2 linked regions of the Homo sapiens genome follow. The protein of the gene in region 2 purifies or fractionates together with the protein of the main gene of each other region. This does not show direct contact. Each region holds a gene or a part of one and is shown on either strand. Other genes may lie near its edges. The genes, in order: LRWD1 and ORC3.

Region 1 (9,995 bases), on a different chromosome or scaffold from region 2:
CGGCTTCTTCCTCCCGGGTCACAAAGTCCTCGATCAGCATCACTCCTGGGAAGGGGAAGGCCCAGCCCTCAAAGTCAGACTCCTCTGTGCCCACGGCCCAGCCGGTGTCGGAGCAGTAAATGAAACGGTATGTTTTCTGCAAAAGAAACACAAGTCCACAGGCTGGGCAACACAGCGAGACCCGGTCCCTACGAAAAGTTAAAACAGGCCAGGTGCGGTGGCTCACGCCTGTAATTCCAGCACTTTGGGAGGCCGAGGTGGGTGGATCACCTGAGGTCAGGAGTTCAAGACCAGCCTGGCCAACATGGTGAAACCCCATCTCTACTAAAAATACAAAAATTAGCCAGGCATGGTGGCAGGTGCCTGTAATCCCAGCTACTCAGGAGGCTGAAGCTGGAGAATTGCTTAAACCCAGAAGGCAGAGGTTGCAGTGAGCCAAGATGGCACCACTGCACTCCAGCCTGGGCGACAGAGTGAGACTCAAAAAAAAAAAAAAAGTTTAAATAAAAATTAGCCGGGTGTGGCAGAGCGCACTTGTCATTTCAGCTACTCAGGAGGCTGAGGCGGGAGGATCATTTGAGCCCAGGAGGTTGAGGCTACAGTGAGCCATGGTCGCGCTACTGCACTCCAGCCTGGACAACAAAGCAAGACCCTGTCTCAAAAAAAAAAAAAGAAAAAAAAAAAAGGAAAGACACATCCTGGAGCCATGGCAGCCCCTGGCACTTGTGTGCCCTCAGGAGACCCTCTGATGGCTCATTCCTCCCCTCAGGACACTGTGGAAGGCAGCTGGAGTCTAGGGGGAGGTGCAGGCAGAGCCTCTGCCCCAGGCTGACCGGGGAAGGCCCGCAGCCCTCTTGAGCTAACACGAATTTGATTGGTTTCCTTTCTCACTTTCCTCCCCTGTAAAAGAGAAGGGTTTGTACAACATGTTTTTCCTTCTCCATTTTACAAAGGAGGCTCAGCAAAGTTAAGGAACCAGCCCGAGGCTGGACAGCACCTCCTGCACTCCCATCTCCTCAGCTGCTTCCAGGAGGCCCCAAACTGCCTGACTACCTTGAATCTGTGCACCCTAATCTCTTTAGGTCTTTGCTGATGCCACCCCGGTGTCCCAGGGGTTGGCCCGTGCCTATCACCAGCGTGAGGGTCACCTAGGAGGGCAGCCAACTTCCCTACAGAGCTGAGCGTTCAGTTGAGCTCCTCAGTGTCCCAACCTCCCTTCTCCTCACTCTTGTCCTCAGGGCACCTTTCCAGACCCAGCATCACCCCTCAATCCTCATACCCTGGGCTGTCACTCAACTCCCACCCCATGTCCCTCTCTGCTCTGCCACCAACCCCGAGGCCTGGCGGTACTCTAAGGGTTCCCCCATGCTAAAGAAAGTCTAGAAACCAGGCCAGGCACGGTGGCTCACACCTGTAATCCCAACACTTTGGGAGGCCAAGGTGGACTGATCACCTGGGGTCAGGAGTTCAAGACCAGCCTGGCCAACATGGCAAAACCCCGTCTCTATTAAAAATACAAAAACTAGCCGGGCGTCGTGGTGCATGCCTGTAATCCCAGCTACTCAGGTGGCTGAGGCAGGAGAATCCCTTGAACCCGGGAGGTGGAGATTGCAGTGAGCCAAGATCGTGCTAGTGGACACCAGCCTGGGTGACACAGTGAGACCCCATCTTGAAAATAATAATAATACTTTTTGTTTGTTTGTTTGTTTGTTTGAGATGGAGTCTCGCTCTGTCACCAGAACTGGAGTGCAGTGGCACGATCTCGGCTCACTGCAACCTCTACCTCCTGGGTTCAAGCGATTCTCCTGCCTCAACCTCCCGAGTAGCTGGGACTACAGGTGCGCGCCACCATGCCCAGCTAATTTTTTTCTTGTATTTTAGTAGAGACGAGGTTTCACCATGTTGACCAGGATGGTCTTGAACTCCTGACCTTGTGATCCTCCCGCCTTGGCCTCCCAAAGTGCTGGGATTACAGGCGTGAACCACCATGCCCAGCCAATAGTAAATTTTTAAAAAAGAGTTTCGCCAATGAAATAGCCAGTATTTGCATCTGTGGCACTGAACATTTTACATGGATTATCTAGTTTCATCCCCAGGACAGCCCCAAGAGGAAGGTACCATAACTATCATGGGCAGGAGGTGTGGAGGTTCTGGCCGGAGTCACCCAGTGAGGACTTCGGAGGCCACCAGAACTCAGCCCTGGGCTCTGTGGCCTGTCTCCTCTTCCTCTTCCATCTCCAGGCTCCTCACACCCTGGGCTGCCACTCACTGTGGGCCGCTGTCTTTCTCTGTTCTTCCCTCCAGGGACCTCAGCCCCTTCCAATGCTTTACTTCCAGCCACCGACTCCAGCTCAGACCCCTCCTGAGATTGGCACTATCTCCTCCTGCTCCTGGGGCCCTCCCACGGGAAACATTAAAACTGGGAGTCCCCCGTGTGTCGGCTGAGCAGGCTGGACTTGTCCGAAAGGCCATGGAGCGCTCTTGAAGGGTTTTAAAGGAGTGACGAGGTCAAATGTGAATTTTAGAAAGATCTGGAGGGGGGAGGGGCAGATATGAAGGGTGGAGGCTGGAAAGCCAGTGAGGAACTGCCCCAGTGCCCTGAGATCCTGGATACCTCACTCTCCTTGTTCCATAGCCATCGGGTTGGGAAGATGTCACCTCCACATGGCCACTGGAACGGGTCAGACTTTCCGCAATTTTTTTCTTTTCTTTTTTTTTGTTTGAGGCAGGGTCTCGCTCTGTCACTCAGGCTGGAGTGTAGTGGCGCTCACAGCTCACTGCAGCCTTGACCTCCTGGGCTCAGGCAATCCTCCCACCTCAGCCTCCCAAGTAACTGGGACTACAAGCACACACCACCACACCTAGCTAATTTTTAAATTTTTTGTAGAGACAGGGTCTTGCTATGTTGTCCAAGCTGGTCTCAAACTCCTAGACTCAGGCGAGCCTCCTGCCTCAGCCTCCCAAAGGGCTGGGATTATAGGCATGAGCCACCGCACCTGGCCCCTTCCACAAATTAAAACTCTTAAGTTCATTCATATTGTTGTACAGCCGTCACCACCATTCAGAACTTTTTCATCTTGCAAAACTGAAACTCTTTCCCTATTAAACAACAGGTCCCCATCTCCCCTTCCTGAGCCCTTGGCAACAACCCTTCTACTTTCTGTCCCTGTGACTACCCTACGTAGCTCACACAACAGGAATCATGCAGTATTTGTCTTCTGTGACTGCTTCCTTAACTTAGCATCGTGTCCCCAAGGTTCGTCCATGCTGTAACATATGTCAAAATGTCCTTTTTTTTTTTTTTTTTTTTGAGACAGGGTCTCACTATGTTGCCCAAGCTGGAGTGCAGTGGCGTGATCACAGCTCACTGCAGCCTTGACCTCCCAGGCTCAAGCAACCCTCCCACCTCAGCCTCCTGGGTAGCTGGGACTACAGGTACGTGTCACCATGTATGGTTAATTTTTTTGTAGAGGTGGGATTTCACCATGTTGCCCATGCTGGTCTCAAACTCCTGGGCTCTGGCAATCTGCCTGCCTCGGTCTCCCAAAGTGCTGGAATTACAGGTGTGAGCCACTGTGCCCGGCCTGTCCTTCCTTTTTAAGGCTGAATAGTATTCTACTATGTGTATGCACCACATTTTGTGGATCAAGTCATCTCTTTTTTTTTTTTTTTTTTTTTTTTTGAGAAGGAGTCTTGCTCTGTCACCTGAGCTGGAGTGCAGTGGTGCGATCTTGGCTCACTGCAACCTCTGCCTCCTGGGTTCAAGCGATTCTCCTGCCTCAGCCTCCCGAGTAGCTGGGATTACAGATGTGCCTCACCAAGCCCGGCAAGTTTTTGTAATTTTAGTAGAGGCAGGGTTTCGCCATGTTAGCCAGGCAGGTCTCAAACTCCTGACCTCAGGTGATCTGCCCACCTCAGCCTCCCAAAGTGCTGGGATTACAGGCGTGAGCCACTGAACCCGGCCCAGGTATCTTGATAGATGCTTGGTTTGCTTCCATCTTTGGGCTGTCATGAATAATGTCGTGAATATGAACATGGGTGTGCAAATATCTCTTCCAGACCCTGCTTTTAGTTCCTTTGGATATATACCCAGAAGCAGGATTGCGGATCATGGGTAATTCTATGTTTAATTCATGAGGCATGCCATGCTGTTTCCATAGGACCTTGGGCACTTTTACCATGGACGTTGGGGCAGTCTTCACTGGCTTACCAGCCTCCACACCTTCATATCTGCCCGTTCCCTTCCCAGGATCTTTCTAAAATTCACATTTGACTTCATCACTCCTTTAAAACCCTTCAAGAGCTCTCCAGGGCCTTTGGGACAAGTCCAGCCTGCTCAGCTGATGCACCGGGGAGCATCTGTGATCAGACCTCCCCCCCCCCACAACCTCTCCAGCCTCATCTCTCTCACCTGAGGCATCACCAATCCACCTTCCTACCCCACGCAGTTTTCTGGGTTGGAATGCCCTTGCAACCAACCACAGTCCTTCCATGCCAGCCCAAAGGCGCTGAGTTCTTTTTCTTTTTTTATTTATTTTCTTTTTGTGAGACAGAGTCTCGCTCTGTCGCCCAGGCTGAAGTGAGGTGGCTCGATCATAGCTCACTGCAGCCTCCAGCTCCTGGGTTGCAGCGATCCTTGAGTTCCTTTTCGTTAGTTAACTGGAATTCACTGTCTCCTTGCCCATTGCAGTCCACGGCCTTCAGGCACCGTTGGACTGGTATTCAGCACCCTCGATCGACCCTTTCCGTGTCATCTCCCTGCAGGCCCGTGAAGCTCCCAGCGCCAGACCCGAGAGGCTACGTCGAGGTTTACAGGCAGATCCCCCCAGAGTCCCCGAGGTGACCTGTAATCGAACCCACCCACGTTCCAGCTCCTTCCCCACTCCCAAGCCCGCTCCTTAAAGCCCTCATCTCCTCACCCTGCATCACCCCTACCGTAAGGGTCCCTCACAGGCTTCGATCCCGGCCCCTATCATGGCCAAGCTGGACCTCAGTTTCCCCAGATGCAGAGCGACGTTTGTGGGCGCGGCCCCTCTCCCACCCCTTACCGCTGGGGGCAGCTCCCAGGGCGGGTCACTGCCGCGCTGCCGCTCGCAGATCAGACAGGTCCGGATGCCCTTGCAACCGCATTCCCGAAGGACTTCGGGGGTCTCGGCGGCAGCCGCCGCCATCGCGCCGTCCGCGTGGCCAGTGCGCAGGCGCGGCCGTGGGGGCCGCTGGGAGTTGTAGTCCGCGCCGGGCGGGGGCACGAGGCCTGGGTTCCGCTTCCTTCCGGTCGTTAACGCCCACGGGCTCGCGCGGCGCCGCCTCCTGGGCTCAGTTACCGCGGACGCCAGTGCCGGGCTCCAGGAGACGCAGGGCGACGCCACACGCCGGGGTGGCCGACTGGGTCAGCGCGGGCTGCGCCTCCTCGCCATGGGCCCCCTCTCGGCGCGGCTGCTAATGCAGCGCGGGCGCCCCAAGAGCGACCGGCTGGGGAAGATCCGGAGTCTGGAGTAAGAGCCGGGCAGCGGGTGAGGCTGTGTCCTCGGGGCCGGGCGGTCGGGGAGAAGAGCGGGGACCCTCCCCAACGGCCCGCTTGTCCCCGTTATCGCCCTCTGGGTTCGGCAGAGTGGTCCAAATGTCTTCTTGTTGGGAGATCGTGGCCCCACCCGCTCGCCGGGAGCCCCGAGGGGCCTCATCCCCTGAAGGGAGCCCGGACAGTTAGGGGCACAGCCTGCCGCTATCGTTAGAGGGCCTGGGAAGCACAGACGAGCCCCCGAAGGATCAGGAAGAGCATCCTAGAGGGGGCTAGGATGCCCCCGAGTCCTAAAGTAGTTGCAGCTTTTTTTTTTTTTTTTTTTTTTTTTTTTTTTTTTTTGTTAAGTGGTGTGGAGTCGGGAGTAGTGGCGCGCGCTTCTAGTCCCAGCTACTCGAGAGGCTGAGGCGGGAGGATCCCTCAGCCCAGGAGTTGGAGGCAGCTGTGAGCTATGATCGCGCCTAGGCGACTGAGTGACACCCCGTCTCTAAAAATAAAGTAACGGGGGGATGGGCGGGGCGGCTACACTTGTACGAGAAATGTCAGGTGAAAAAGCCTTCTGAGGTACCCGGGGCAGATTGGTGTAGGGTGCAAAGCCTGCCCGCCCCCTAAGCCTTCTGCCCCCAACTCCAGCCTGTCAGGATTGGAGCTGCTTTCCGAGCACCTGGACCCCAAACTCCTGTGCCGCCTGACGCAGCTGCAGGAGCTTGACCTGTCTAACAACCACCTGGAGACGCTGCCGGACAACCTGGGCCTGTCCCACCTGCGTGTCCTCCGCTGCGCCAACAACCAGCTGGGGGATGTTACTGCCTTGTGCCAGTTCCCCAAGCTCGAGGAACTCAGCCTGGAGGGCAACCCCTTCCTGACGGTAAGTGGGAGCCTCCCACCAGCTTCATACCTGGGGCCAGGACTCTGTTGGGCTCAGGCTCAGCATCTCCTGAGCCACTGCTCTTCACCCTCTCTTCCCCAGGTCAATGACAACCTGAAAGTCTCCTTTCTCCTGCCCACGCTCCGTAAGGTCAATGGCAAGGATGCGTCCTCAACTTACTCTCAGGTGGAGAACCTGAATCGGGAGCTGACCAGCAGGGTAAGGGGATGAGAGGATTATTGTGTGCTTAGGAGCTGTGGGGGCATTGGGAGAATGATAGAATTGGACATCAGGAGGATGTTGAGGAGGGTGACTGATAGAGGCTCTTTGCCCCAACAGCCCCTAGCCTGATGTGCTACTTTATTTATTTATTTATTTTTTGAGATGGAGTCTCACTCCGTCGCCCAGGCTGGAGTGCAGTGATGCGATCTTGGCTCATTGCAACCTCTGCCTCCCAGGTTCAAGTGATTTTCCTGCCTCAGCCTCCCGAGTAACTAGGATTACAAGCACCTGCCACCATGCCCAGCTAATTTTTTTTGTATTTTTAGTAGAGACAGGGTTTCACCATGTTGGCCAGGCTGGCCTCAAACTCCTGGCCTTAGGTGATCTGCCCGCCTTGGCCTCCCAAAGTGTCGGGATTACAGGTATGAGTCACCACACCCGGCCTGACTCTTCTAAGTAGCTTTTTCTGGGGTGTTTCTTTTTTACCTTTTTTTTTTTTTTTTTTTTTTTTTTTTTTTTTTTTTAGAGACAGGGTCTCGCTCTGCTGCCCATGTTGAAGTGCAGTGGTGTGATCGTATCTCACTGCAGCCTCCAACTCCTGGGCTCAAGCGATCTTCCCGCCTTAGCCTTCTGAATAGCTGGGGCTTTAGGCGCATGCCACCACGTCTGGATCATTTTAAAATTTTTTGTAGAGATGGGATCTTGCTCTGTTCCCCAGGCTCCAACTCCTGGCCTCAAGCGATGCTTCTTCCTCAGCCTCCCAGTGGCTGGGACTATAGGCACCTGGGTTGTTGCTGGTGTGTGTGTGTGTGTGTGTGTGTGTAGGCACCTGGGTTGTTGCTGGGGTGTGTGTGTGTGTGTGTGTAGGCACCTGGGTTGTTGCTGGGGTGTGTGTGGGGTGTGTGTGTGTGTGTGTGTGTGTGTGTGTGTGTGTGTGTGTGTTTTATGAGGCTGTGATTCCAGGAGGCTTCCAGCAGGTGGCGGGATTGAGATTCCCTGAGATGGAGGGCTGGGTCCGGAGGAGCTGGGGTGGGCCGGGCCTGGATCTGGTCCCTCTTGCACCAGGTCACAGCTCACTGGGAGAAGTTCATGGCCACACTGGGTCCTGAAGAGGAGGCTGAGAAGGCCCAGGCGGACTTTGTGAAGTCGGCTGTCAGGGATGTCCGCTACGGGCCCGAGTCCCTCAGCGAGTTCACCCAGTGGCGGGTATGTCCCTGTCCCAATGTGCAGGGAGTCACTGGCTCTCGTATCTCTAGCTGCCTGGAGGTCCCTGGCCATGAAGGGCTGAGGGGCTGTGGGAGTGGGGTGAGTCAGGGTGGGCAGCCCTGTTGGCTGGAGAGGCCCTTCCCCAACTCTGGAAGCATAAGCTCCCCCTGACTATGCATCGGCAGGGCTGGGGGCACCTGGGACTCTGCCCAGCTTCCTGATGGCCTGGCCCCACCCAGGTGCGGATGATCTCTGAGGAGCTGGTGGCCGCCAGTAGGACCCAGGTGCAAAAGGCTAACAGCCCAGAGAAGCCCCCAGAAGCTGGAGCTGCCCACAAGCCCAGGGTGAGTGCAGCTCCCAGGGCTCTGAGGCCAGCCCAGTCCCTCCTCCCTGGAGAAGCTTCAGGAGACCAAGGCGTCCTGGGCATGTGCCCAGGAAGCACCCCAGGTCCTGGCTCACTCCCTAGGTGACCCCGGGCCAGCCTGGGCCTCCTGCATCCGCAGTGAGGTGGGGTCCAGCCTGTGATGGGGAGGAAGGAAGCCCCAGGCAGACAGGCCCATGGTCACAAGGCCCCCTCCACAGGCCAGACTGGCGGCCTTGAAACGGCCAGACGACGTCCCACTCAGCCTCTCTCCCAGCAAGCGGGCGTGTGCCTCCCCGTCGGCCCAGGTGGAGGGCAGCCCTGTGGCAGGCTCCGATGGCAGCCAGGTGAGCTGAGGTGGCAAGGAGCAGGTGGCAGATGAGTCGGGGCTGGGCAGCTGTGACCCTTCTCTCCCCCCACAGCCTGCTGTGAAGCTGGAGCCCCTGCACTTCCTGCAGTGCCACAGCAAGAACAACAGCCCCCAGGACCTCGAGACCCAGCTGTGGGCCTGTGCCTTCGAGCCGGCCTGGGAGGAGGGTACATGGTGGCGGGCAGGCGGGGCAAGGGCCGCTGGAAATAGGGCCGCCTGGATGGGTGGGGGATCAGGAGACAGAGCTTAAAAGGCGCCATCAAGGCTGGGAGGAGGAGGCTGCAGGGAGGACCTAGATGGGAAATGTCTCTGCTCATCCGACCTCTCAAAACCGGGCACTCAGGGGCCACATCCCAGACCGTGGCCACGTGCGGCGGGGAGGCTGTGTGCGTAATTGATTGCCAGACGGGCATCGTGCTCCACAAGTACAAGGCACCCGGCGAGGTGAGTGCAAGGCCCTGTCCCTGCTGGGCAAGGGTGCCCGACTGACTCCTGAACAGCAGCATGGGGATGGATGCAGGCTCGGCCCCCTGCCCCATGGCCTTTTTCTTTCATGCTGGGGCTCCCTCCCCCAGGCCCGGGCTACCCGCGTGTTCACACCAATAGCTCTGCCCCAGTGACTGTTTACTCTAACCCCCGCCCAGGAGTTCTTTTCTGTGGCCTGGACCGCTCTGATGGTGGTCACACAGGCTGGCCACAAGAAGCGCTGGAGTGTGCTGGCGGCTGCAGGCCTACGGGGCCTGGTCCGGCTGCTGCACGTGCGTGCCGGCTTCTGCTGCGGGGTCATCCGAGCCCACAAGAAGGCCATCGCCACCCTGTGCTTCAGCCCCGCCCACGAGACCCATCTCTTCAGTAAGCCCCTCCCCTTCACCCCTGGGACCCCCAAGCACCCCTGTCCTGCTGCCCCAGTAGCCTCCACGCTCCCCTCCCTGGGATGGCTGTGAGCTCGGGCGCCTGCCGGGCCCCAGTCTGCACCGCTCCGACTCTAGCTTTGGCAGGAAGCCATGTCGCTTCAACCCTGGCTTTATCCACAGCCTGCTCTGTGGCCTCGGAGTTTTCCAACAGCCTGGGCCACTCTGTCCCCTGTCAGTGACCTGGGGGGATGCCCCTGCCCCCGGGTGTGGCGCCCCTGTCAAGGGGGATGGATGAGCCACAGGAAGTGGCCGCTGGAGCCACCGCATCAGGTTAGATGGAGGAAACAGGGATTGGGGGCCCAGGAGTGTTCCTGTCTCCTAGCCTCGGCCCGCCCTCCCCGCCTCGGAGGGGCTGGCCTTGGGACCGTGGGCTCAGCCTGGGATGCAGCCAGCAGGAGGGAGCAGGGTCATCTCAGGGCCACTTCTCCCCTACCCCACCCCCTCTTCAGCGGCCTCCTATGACAAGCGGATCATCCTCTGGGACATCGGGGTGCCCAACCAGGACTACGAATTCCAGGCCAGGTGATGCTTCGGGT
Region 2 (9,968 bases):
CCATCAAATTCCTAATTAAAAAAAAATACCACCTATTAACTATATCATCCTTTTTTTTTTCCTCACCAGAAACCACTGAAGAAGCTGCAGGCTTTGGCAATTCTTATTACCAGATGAGATTTTTTTCATTACTACTGATTCAAATTAATGAAGAGTAATATATTATGTATTGTTGAATGAGAAACACAAATGTCTATTTCACAGATGTCTATTTCAAAAGTATAGAATAGCTGAATTTGTATTATTTGGCTAATTTTCAATTGTCTATAGTGATGTTTTACATCTGGAAATGAAAAGTCACACAAGGCTTCTTAAACAGAAGCATAGTTGTAAAAGGCCAATTGAACTTGGCTATAACCAAGTTTTTTGTTTTCTTTTTGTAGAGGAAAGTTCTTGCTCTTTTGCCCAGGCTGGAGTGCAGTGGTGGCATCATAGCTCACTGTAGCCTTGAACTTCTGGGCTCAAGTGATTCTCCCACCTCAGCCTACCAAGTAAAAGGGATTATAGGTGCTTGCCACCCTTTCCGGCCTAGCCAAGCAAATTTAAAAATAGCAGCTTGAAAACATTTTCCTTAAAGTGTCTATAAATCACCTTTATGGAAAAAAAGAAAAACACTAAAACCCATGTGTAAGTGGCTAGTGGGCAGGTTGTTTTTAGTTTACCTTAAATAAGCAGCATAAAGCACATCTTAAAGGAGGTGAGTCCAGAAGCAATTTGGGGAAGGTCAATGATATGGTTTGGCTGTGTCCCCACCCAAATCCCATCTTGAATTCCCAAGTGCTGTGGGAGGGACCTGGTGGGAGGTAACTGAATCATGGGGAAAAGTCTTTCCCATGCTGTTCTCATGACAGTGAATAAGTCTTATGAAACCTGATGGTTTTATAAAGAGGAGTTCCCCTGCACAAGCTCTCTCTCTTTGCCTGCTACCAGCCATGTAAGATGTGATTTGTTCCTCCTTGCCTTCCACCATGATTGAGGCCTCCCCAGCCATGTGGAACTGAGTCCATTAAACCTCTTTCTTTTGTAAATTGCCCAGTCTCGCCTATGTCTTTATCAGCGGTGTGAGAACAGACTAATACAGTAAATTGGTACCAGTAGAGTGGGGCACTGCTGAAAAGATACCCAAAAATGTGGAAGTGACTTTGGAACTGGATGACAGGCAGAGGTTGGAACAGTTTGGAGGGCTCAGAAGACAGGAAAATGTGGGAAAGTTTGTAACTACCTAGAGACTTATTGAATGTCTTTGACCAAAATGCTGATAATGATATGGACAATGAAACAGGCTGAGGGGGTCTCAGATGGAGATGACAAACTTGTTGGAAACTGGAGCAAAGGTGACTCTTGTTATGTTTTAGCAAAGAGACTGGCGGCATTTTGCCCCTGCCCCAGAGATTTGTGGAACTTTGAACTTGAGGGAGATGATTTTGGGTATCCTGAGGAACAAATTTCTAAGCAGCAAAGCATTCAAGAGGTGACTTGAGTTCTGTTAAAGGCATTCCATTTTATGAGGGAAGCAGGGCATAAAAGTTTGGAAAATTTGCAGCCTGACAATGAGATAGAAAAGAAAATCCCATTTCTGAGGAGAAATTCAAGTCAGCTGCAGAAATTTCCGTAAGTAACAAAGAGCCAAACGTTAATCCCCAAAACAATGGAGAAAATATCTCCAGGGCATGTCAGAGGTCTTCATGGCAGCCCCTCCCATCACAAGCCTGGAGACCTAGGAGGCAAAAGCGATTTCACGGGCTGGGCCCAGAGTCCCCGTGCTGTGTGCAGCTTAGGAAATTGGTGCTGTGTCCTAGCCACTCCAGCTGTGGCTGAAAAGGGCCAACACAAAGTTCGGGCCACGGCTTCAGAGAGTGCAAGCCCCAAGCCCTGGCAGCTTCCACATCGTGTTGAGCCTGTGAGTGCACAGAACTGGGGTGTGGGAACCTCCGTCTAGATTTCAGAAGATGTATGGAAAAGCCTGGGTGTCCAGGCAGAAGTTTGCTGTAGGGGCAGGGTCCTCATGGAGAACCTCTGCTAGGGCAGTGTGAAAGGGAAATGTGGGGTTGGAGTCCCCACACAGAGTCCTTACTGGGGCACTGCCTAGTGGAGCTGTGAGAAAAGGGCTACCATCCTCTACACCCCAGAATGGTAGATCCACCAACAGCTTGCACCGTGTGCCTGGAAAAGCTGCAGACACTTAACACCAGCCCATGAAGGCAGCCAGGAGGGAGGCTGTAACCTGCAAAGCAACAGGGGTGAAGCTGCCAAAGACCATGGGAACCCACCTCTTGCATCAGCATGACCTGGATGTGAGAAATGGAGTCAAAGGAGATCATCTGGAGCTGTAAGACTTGACTACCTCGCTGGATTTCAGATTTGCATGGGGCCTGTAACTCCTTTGTTTTGGCCAATTTCTCCCATTTGGAATGGCTGTATTTACCCAATGCCTGTACCCCCATTGTATCTAGGAAGTAACTAACTTGCTTTTGATTCTACAGGCTCATAGGCAGAAGGGACTTGCCTTGTCTCGGATGAGACTTTGGACTGTGGACTATTGAGTTAATGCTGAAATGAGTTAGGACTTTGGGGGACTGTTGGGAAGGCATGATTGGTTTTGAAATGTGAGGACATGTGATTTGGGAGGGGCCAGGGGCAGAATGATATGGTTTGGTTGTGTCCCCACCCAAATCTCATCTTGAATTCCCAAGTGCTATGGGAGGGACCTGGTGGGCGGTAATTGAATCATGGGAGCAAGTCTTTCCTGTGCTGTTCTCATGATAGTGAATAAGTCTCATGAGATCTGATGGTTTTATAAAGAGGAGTTCCCCTGTACAAGCTCTCTCACTTTGCCTGCTGCCATCTATGTAAGATGTGACTTGCTCCTCCTTGCCTTCCACCATGATTGTGAGGCCTCCCCAGCCAAGTGGAACTATGAGTCCATTAAACCTCTTTCTTTTGTAAATTGCCCAGTCTCAGGTGTGTCTTTATCAGCAGCGTGAGAACAGACTAATACAGTCAATATTAAAGAATCATACTTGCATTTATGTAGAAACATAGTTAATTAACTTTAGTTGCTAAGGTCTAGGAAAATGTTAGTATTTGTTGTCAAGAGCAGCATGACAAATCAGTTAGGAAACAGTCCACTAAAAACTTCAAATCATTTTATACAAAATGTAAGGAGTCAGGCTGGGTGTGGCGGCTCATGCCTGTAATCCCAGCACTTTGGGAGGCCAAGGCAGGTAGATCACTTGAGGTCAGGAGTTCCAGACCAGCCTGGCCAATATGGTACCCTGTGTCTACTAAAAATACAAATTAGCCAGGCGTGGCGGCACACCTCATGAAGTCCCAGCTACTTGAGATGCTGCGGCAGGAGAATCACTTGAACCTGGGAGGCAGAGGTTGCAGTGAGCCAAGATTTCGTCACTGCACTCCAGCCTGGATGACAGAGCTAGACTCCTTCTCAAAAAAATAAAAATTAGAAAAATCAAAATGTAAGAGTCAAAATACATTGTTACTACAAAGTCTACAAATTCTGTAAAAATTTACATTATAAACCTATAATTTTCTATTGAGTAAAGATATAAAGAGATTAAGTACATAGAGAGATATGATCACTCTTTTCATAAAGCTTATATTTTACCTGAAGAGGTAATATACAAAATCACTGTAAAACTATAAAACACTACAAAAATTATTAAGTAAAAATATTAAAGTATGTGAAGGAATATGTTCAATATAGTACTCAGAGAGTTGTAGAGGCTTATTGTTAACAGTTATCTTAACAATCTATTATTGGCAGTTTTCTTTTCATCCTATTTCACTGGTAAAACTTATTCTTTTTACCTTATCGAGTACCGTAGTCAGGTGCTCCTTACAAGACAAAGATTGGAACAGTTCTATGCACAATAGAGATGATACTGCATGAGGAAGCAATCGGTGGATGATAATAGGAGATGTGGCTATTCCAAAAATGAGTATTAGTGGAAATTCATGGAGATGTTGACTAGTTTTGAAAGACAGACACAAAAGTGAAATTTATTTAGCAAATATATTTCAATACATCATATTTCAACATAAGACAAACTTTATTTTAATGCTTACTTTATAAGACACTGTTAAGGATTATCATTGCAAACACTAAAATTTTCTAAGTCTTTCACTTTCTTCTATTAAACAGAGAAATAATTACTTTCCAGACAGTCTAGCTTTGAAATCAATCTCTTAATAAATCCTCTCATTTTATAAATAAGAACAGAGAGGTCCAGAAAGTTTTCCTGAAGATTATACCATCTTTTTTCTTTTTTTTTTTTCAGATGGAGTCCTGCTCTGTCACCCAGACTGGAGTGCAGTGGTGCAATCTCGGCTCACTGCAACCTCCACCTCCTGGGTTCAAGCGATTCTCCTGCCTCAGCCTCCCGAGTAGCTGGGACTACATGTGCGTGCCACCATGCCTAATTTTTTAATTTTAGTGGAGATGGGGTTTCACCATATTGGTCAGGCTGGTCTCAAACTCCTGACTTCATGTGATCCACCCACTTCGGCCTCCCAAAGTGCTGGGATTACAGGCGTGAGCCACCATGCCCGGGCCGAAGATTATACAATCTTAAGTGTTAGAAGAGATGTTAGATACCATTCCATTTAATATCTCATTCAAAGTTTGAGCCCTTTCTATAGTCTTCCTCACTTTTGATGGCTAAGGTAGTCATTAAGTCTAAGCTCCAAAAAAAAGTACAGCTTTTCTGTCACTATTTTGTACTATGTACTTTCCAAGCATGCTAAGCAGTTCAGTGTCAGCATTAAGAAAAGTCCTAGGATCTGGGCTGGGTGCAATGGTTCATGCAAGTCCTAGGATCTGGGCTGGGTGCGATGGTTCATGTCTGTAATCCCAGCACGTTGGGAGACTGAGGAGGGCAGATCTCTTGAGGCCAAGAGTTTGAGACCAGCCTGGGCAACACGGCAAAACCCCATCTCTACAAAAAATACAAAAATTAGCCGGGCATGGTGGTGTGTGCCTATAGTCCTAGCTACTTGGGGACCTGAGAAGGGAGGACTGCTTAAGCCCAGGAGGTGGAGGGTGCAGTGAGCCAAGATCATGTCACTGCGCTCTAGCCTGGGTGACAGAGCCAGACCCTGTCTCAAAAAAAAAAAAAAAAAAAAGAAAAGTCCTAATATATAGAACTCTTAGAATCAATGAAGGAAAAAAGATCCTATCAAAGTAGAAATTTAAAGTATATTAGTAGGCCGGGCGCGGTGGCTCACGCCTGTAATCCCAGCACTTTGGGAGGCCGAGGCGGGTGGATCATGAGGTCAGGAGATCGAGACCATCCTGGCTAACAAGGTGAAACCCCGTCTCTACTAAAAATACAAAAAATTAGCCAGGCGCGGTGGCGGGCGCCTGTAGTCCCAGCTACTCGGGAGGCTGAGGCAGGAGAATGGCGTGAACCCGGGAAGCGGAGCTTGCAGTGAGCCGAGATTGCGCCACTGCAGTCCGCAGTCCGACCTGGGCGACAGAGCGAGACTCCGTCTCAAAAAAAATAAAAAATAAAAAAAAATAAAGTATATTAGTAAATTAGCTGGGTGTGGTGGCTCATGTCTGTAATCCTAGCACTTTGGGAGGCCCCAAAGAGCACTAAGGAAGGCAGATCACCTGAGGTCAGGAGTTTGAGACCAGCCTGGCTAATATGGTGAAACCCTGTCTCTACTAAAAATACAAAAATTAGCTAGGCGTGGCAGCGGGCACCTGTAATCCCAGCTACTTGGGAGGCTGAGGCATGAGAACTGCTTGAACCCGGGAGGCGGAGGTGGCAGGGAGTTGAGAAGGCGCCACTGCACTCCAGCCTGGGGGACAGAGCGAGACTCTGTCTCCAAAAATAAAAATAAAAATAAAGTATACTAGTAAATTATTTAACACAATATATAGCTTTAGGCAAATGTAGCTATAACTATTAAAACAAGTTGACATATAGAAGAGGCCAAAATAAATTCCATCCTAAAAAATACACCAGGGAAAATGCATGTCACTGGATTTTAAAATAAGAGTTCATTATTTCAATTCTGAGTCTCACATGATTGCTTTGAAGACGCAATGCAATCGTGAAAATAGTTTCTCACTAGAAGTATTATATAAATGCAAAATAATGTTATTTAGAAGACACTTTTGCTTAGTAAAACTATATGCAACTCAGAGCATCTAAGGATGGATGGGTATCAGAAAATAAGACCTAATAAAAATCTCAACTTAGCCAGGTATGGTGGCTCACTCCTGTAATCCCAGCACTTTGGGAGGCCGAGGCAGGCAGATCACCTGAGGTCAGGAGTTCGAGAACAGCCTGGCCAACATGGTGAAACTCTGTTTCTACTAAAAATACAAAAATTAGCCAGGTGTGGTGGTGGGCACCTGTAATCCCAGCTACTCAGGAGGCTGAGGCAGAATTGCTTGAACCCAGGAGGCGGAGGCTGCAGTGAGCCGAGATCGTACCACTGCACTCCAGCCTGGGCAACAGAACAAAGCTCCATCTCAAAAAAAAAAAAGAAAAAAACAAAAACAACAAACTCAACCTGGAGTAGTTTATCTATTTAATGGGTGAGTAAGAGACAGTCAATCTTGGTGAGAAAAACCATATTTAATACTATCTTACCATGTCAATTTAAAACTGGCTAAATGTGCCTTTGATTCTCATTCTTGGCTCAAAAAGCAAATGGAAAATCTGATAGGAAGTCTTTGAATATTCAATTATAAAGAATTTGAATACTTTGATTTTTATCCAGTTGGTATTAAAATGAAGATTATACTTTTCAAGTTAAAAGTAGTATTTTCTTAAAAAGGGAGTTTTTCATAAAAGCCAGGTAATACACCATCTACCTGCTGATAATTATGAAGTCTTGTAGTACTTTTGTGGCAAAGCTTTCCATATCCTTCAAGATAACGACAACAGGAGGAGACTGCCATTGGCTAGAAGTAGTCCTTTTTTTGCTTAGCATTTTTGGGTCCGTCTTCTTTTAAGCCATTGCAGAAAGAAAGAGTTAAAGGTAAGCCTTACCACTCAAACAATGTTATAATGCCACATGTTGACATATCTCTCTTTAAATTTCACAATAACACTGTTTATTTTTTTTCTACCACACGATAAATAGAAACTCAGGTTACTAGAATCTTGCTGTGTCTGACATGGGAATAATAACCAAGAAGAAAAAGGTTCAGTAAAAATCTATAACTCATATGAAATATTTATATTTTCTGCTAAGGAAATGACAGAAAAAAACATGGAAGAGGAAATTTTCTACAAAATTGATTTTTCTGTTGGTAGAAAGTTATATTCTGCTTTGCTTTATAGTGAGAACTAGTATTTTTAATGAAAAAAATATAATGAATAGTAGTGCTTGCTACTCTGCCACTGTGAAATTTCAAGCCTGAAATGGATACTAGGTATCATCTGGTCCAATCTCAATTTTTAAAAAGATATCTGACATAAACCAAAAGTAGCATTTTATCTGGAAAGTCTAAAATTGTGGAGCAAATCAGGTATTATGGTAAGTATTAGACGTAGTTTAGTCCCTATATAAAGCAAAATGAAACTTCACTTACGATGATTTCAGCAAAAATGTTGATTGGAAAATGTAACCACAGTATTTTTTTTCCCATACTGTCTGGCTACACAGCACCATAACCTAAGACTATGGTTTTATGACGCAATTACCTAGTGTTAACCTAGGTTATTATTTTTCACCAGACTGTCATGGTAGAATGGAACTTCTTTTTACTTATCTGTTTGTCTAACATACTTTACTTAAAGAACACTGATTCCCTAAGAACTCTAAACATAAAACAAATTAGACTTTAGAAAATACATGATTATTCTTCATTGAACTAAGTTGACAGTGGATACTAGCAGCATGGTTCTATTGGACAAAGCAAACATTGAGGAACATAAGAGATAATATACTAAAGTTATAGTTACTGTCACAGAGATGGAACATGCAACAGAAGCAATTCCTGATGCTCTGTTTTTGTCATTAGAGGACATTCTCCAACAAATAATATGTCCTTGTAAAAACCTAAGCACTTACCTGGAATTAGGCTGCATACTAATAAAAGAACATTTTAAAATTCGAGTAGCATTAGAAAAAATAAATACCTACTTTTAAATTAACACCTAGTGCTGCAGAAACATATCCTTGTTAGATCAAAACAGTACTGTCTAATATTATTCCAAGCCACATCAATCATACGTCAATTTCCTGGGAGAAAATCATCAGTTTATATCTACCTGTGTGACAGTCATATACCAACTGGAAAGTGAATCCATTGAATAATGTGTCTTTCTTTGGGTGACGTGAACACTTTCCTCCTCTTTGGATTTTATATCTACACAGCAGTCCATCAACTGTGAGATCAACTTTTGCAAAAAATGTTTCATATCTGTGGAATATAAAAAGTAAGAAAGCTTATCTCTGCCTCTTCTAAAAATAAAACCAAAGCTCTTGAAACTTCTTGCTGAGTGTATTACTTTTTTTTTTGGTAGAATGTGTTTTTTTATACTTACCATCAATACAGCTAATGTAACATTTAACATATTAACTACTGATGCTCATTAGTACCTTCATTAATTCAGACTAAGACTAAACCAAAGCTTATGTATATTATCTTTATTTTTTTTTTTTGAGATGGAGTCTCGCTCTGTTGCCCAGGCTGGAGTACAGTGGCAGGATCTCGGCTCAATACAACCTCTGCCTCCCGGGTTCAAGCAATTCTCCTGCCTCAAGCCTCCCCAGTAGCTGGGATTACAGGCGCGTGCCACCATACCCAGCTAATTTTTGTATTTTTTAGTAGAGACGGGGTTTTGCCATGTTGGCCAGGCTGGTCTCGAACTCCTCACCTCATGATCTGCCTGCCTCAGCCTCCCAAAGTGCTGGGATTACAAGCATCAAACACTGCTCCCAGCCATTTATGTATATTATCTATAATAAAAAGGTCACAGAAGCAAATGTGTAGATATGCAAACTATAAATTTTAGGAATATGTATTTAAATTACATAGGAAAATAAACAGTTTTCAAGTTCCCTAAGAAAAATCAAGTGTCATATGAATTATTTTACTGATTATAAATCTTTCATATAGCCATTTTTAAAGATGCCTTTAAGGGCTTTTACTTAATTTCAATCAGTTTATGAATATGAAAGCAATATAAGCACATAAATCTCTTTTATCAATCTAATCCAAACAAATTTTACCACATTAGGGCCAGGCATGGTGACTCAAGATGTAATCCCAGCACTTTGGGAAGCCAAGGCAGGAGGATTGTTTGAGCCCAGGAGTTCAAGACCAGTCTGGACAACACAGCAAGACCCAATCTCTACAAACAACAACAACAACAAAACCCCACAATGTAGCTGATGTAGCTGAGCGTAATGGCATGCACCTGTAGTCCTAGGTACTGGGGAAGCTGAAGTGGGAGAACTGCTTGAGGCCAGGAGTTCAAGCTGCACTGAGCTATGATCATGCTACTGTAGTACAGCCTAGGCAACAGAGTGAGACCCTGTCTCAAAAGAAAAAAAAAAAAAGCTTTTTAATATATTAGTGTGAACACTCTTTATGATTTCATGGGTTCACATGCTCAGGATTACCTCTGTCAGTGGACTATTTTTCACCATGGTGGCTTTTCAAAGTGGGACAATAAGATGATTTATGGCTGAAACATGAGCCCATGTGGTCTACTCTCTTTTGAGCTGACAAGAGCTCCTCATTCCCCAATTCTCAGCTTTCTGTCCTAAGTCTTTCTACTTATTAAACGTTTCACTGGGTTAAAGAATGCATCTCACAAAATGCCTGGACTGCTACCGGCAGTTAAGCTGATAGGGCAGAAATGGGTCAAGAACAAAGACAGCAAAAGAAGGCAGAGTTCTGTAATAGTCACAATTACTCTGAGAGCCCCCAAACCTCACCCTGCCTAAAACATAGCACTGTGTTCTTTCCACCAAAAAAA

What was found.
Region 1: the proteins of ORC3 (region 2) and LRWD1 purify together in Homo sapiens (affinity purification with mass spectrometry; 4 studies listed by BioGRID and IntAct, with this or other methods). This does not show direct contact.

What each region holds. Positions count from the first base shown.
Region 1 is NC_000007.14:102,459,666-102,469,660, forward strand, and holds the start of LRWD1 (leucine-rich repeat and WD repeat-containing protein 1), read left to right. Parts: upstream 1-5,318; 5' UTR 5,319-5,415; coding exon 5,416-5,495; exon of another isoform or gene 5,496-5,513; intron 5,514-6,076; exon of another isoform or gene 6,077-6,151; coding exon 6,152-6,386; intron 6,387-6,488; coding exon 6,489-6,605; intron 6,606-7,673; coding exon 7,674-7,814; intron 7,815-8,053; coding exon 8,054-8,158; intron 8,159-8,396; coding exon 8,397-8,522; intron 8,523-8,597; coding exon 8,598-8,712; intron 8,713-8,888; coding exon 8,889-8,989; intron 8,990-9,189; coding exon 9,190-9,397; intron 9,398-9,908; coding exon 9,909-9,981; intron 9,982-9,995. Other genes in the region: ALKBH4 (alpha-ketoglutarate-dependent dioxygenase alkB homolog 4), read right to left, coding at 1-136, 5,049-5,171. UniProt on the Homo sapiens protein: Required for G1/S transition. Recruits and stabilizes the origin recognition complex (ORC) onto chromatin during G1 to establish pre-replication complex (preRC) and to heterochromatic sites in post-replicated cells.
Region 2 is NC_000006.12:87,606,109-87,616,076, reverse strand, and holds part of ORC3 (origin recognition complex subunit 3), read right to left. Parts: intron 8,405-9,968; coding exon 8,253-8,404; intron 6,982-8,252; coding exon 6,848-6,981; intron 3,989-6,847; coding exon 3,829-3,988; intron 1-3,828. UniProt on the Homo sapiens protein: Component of the origin recognition complex (ORC) that binds origins of replication. DNA-binding is ATP-dependent. The specific DNA sequences that define origins of replication have not been identified yet.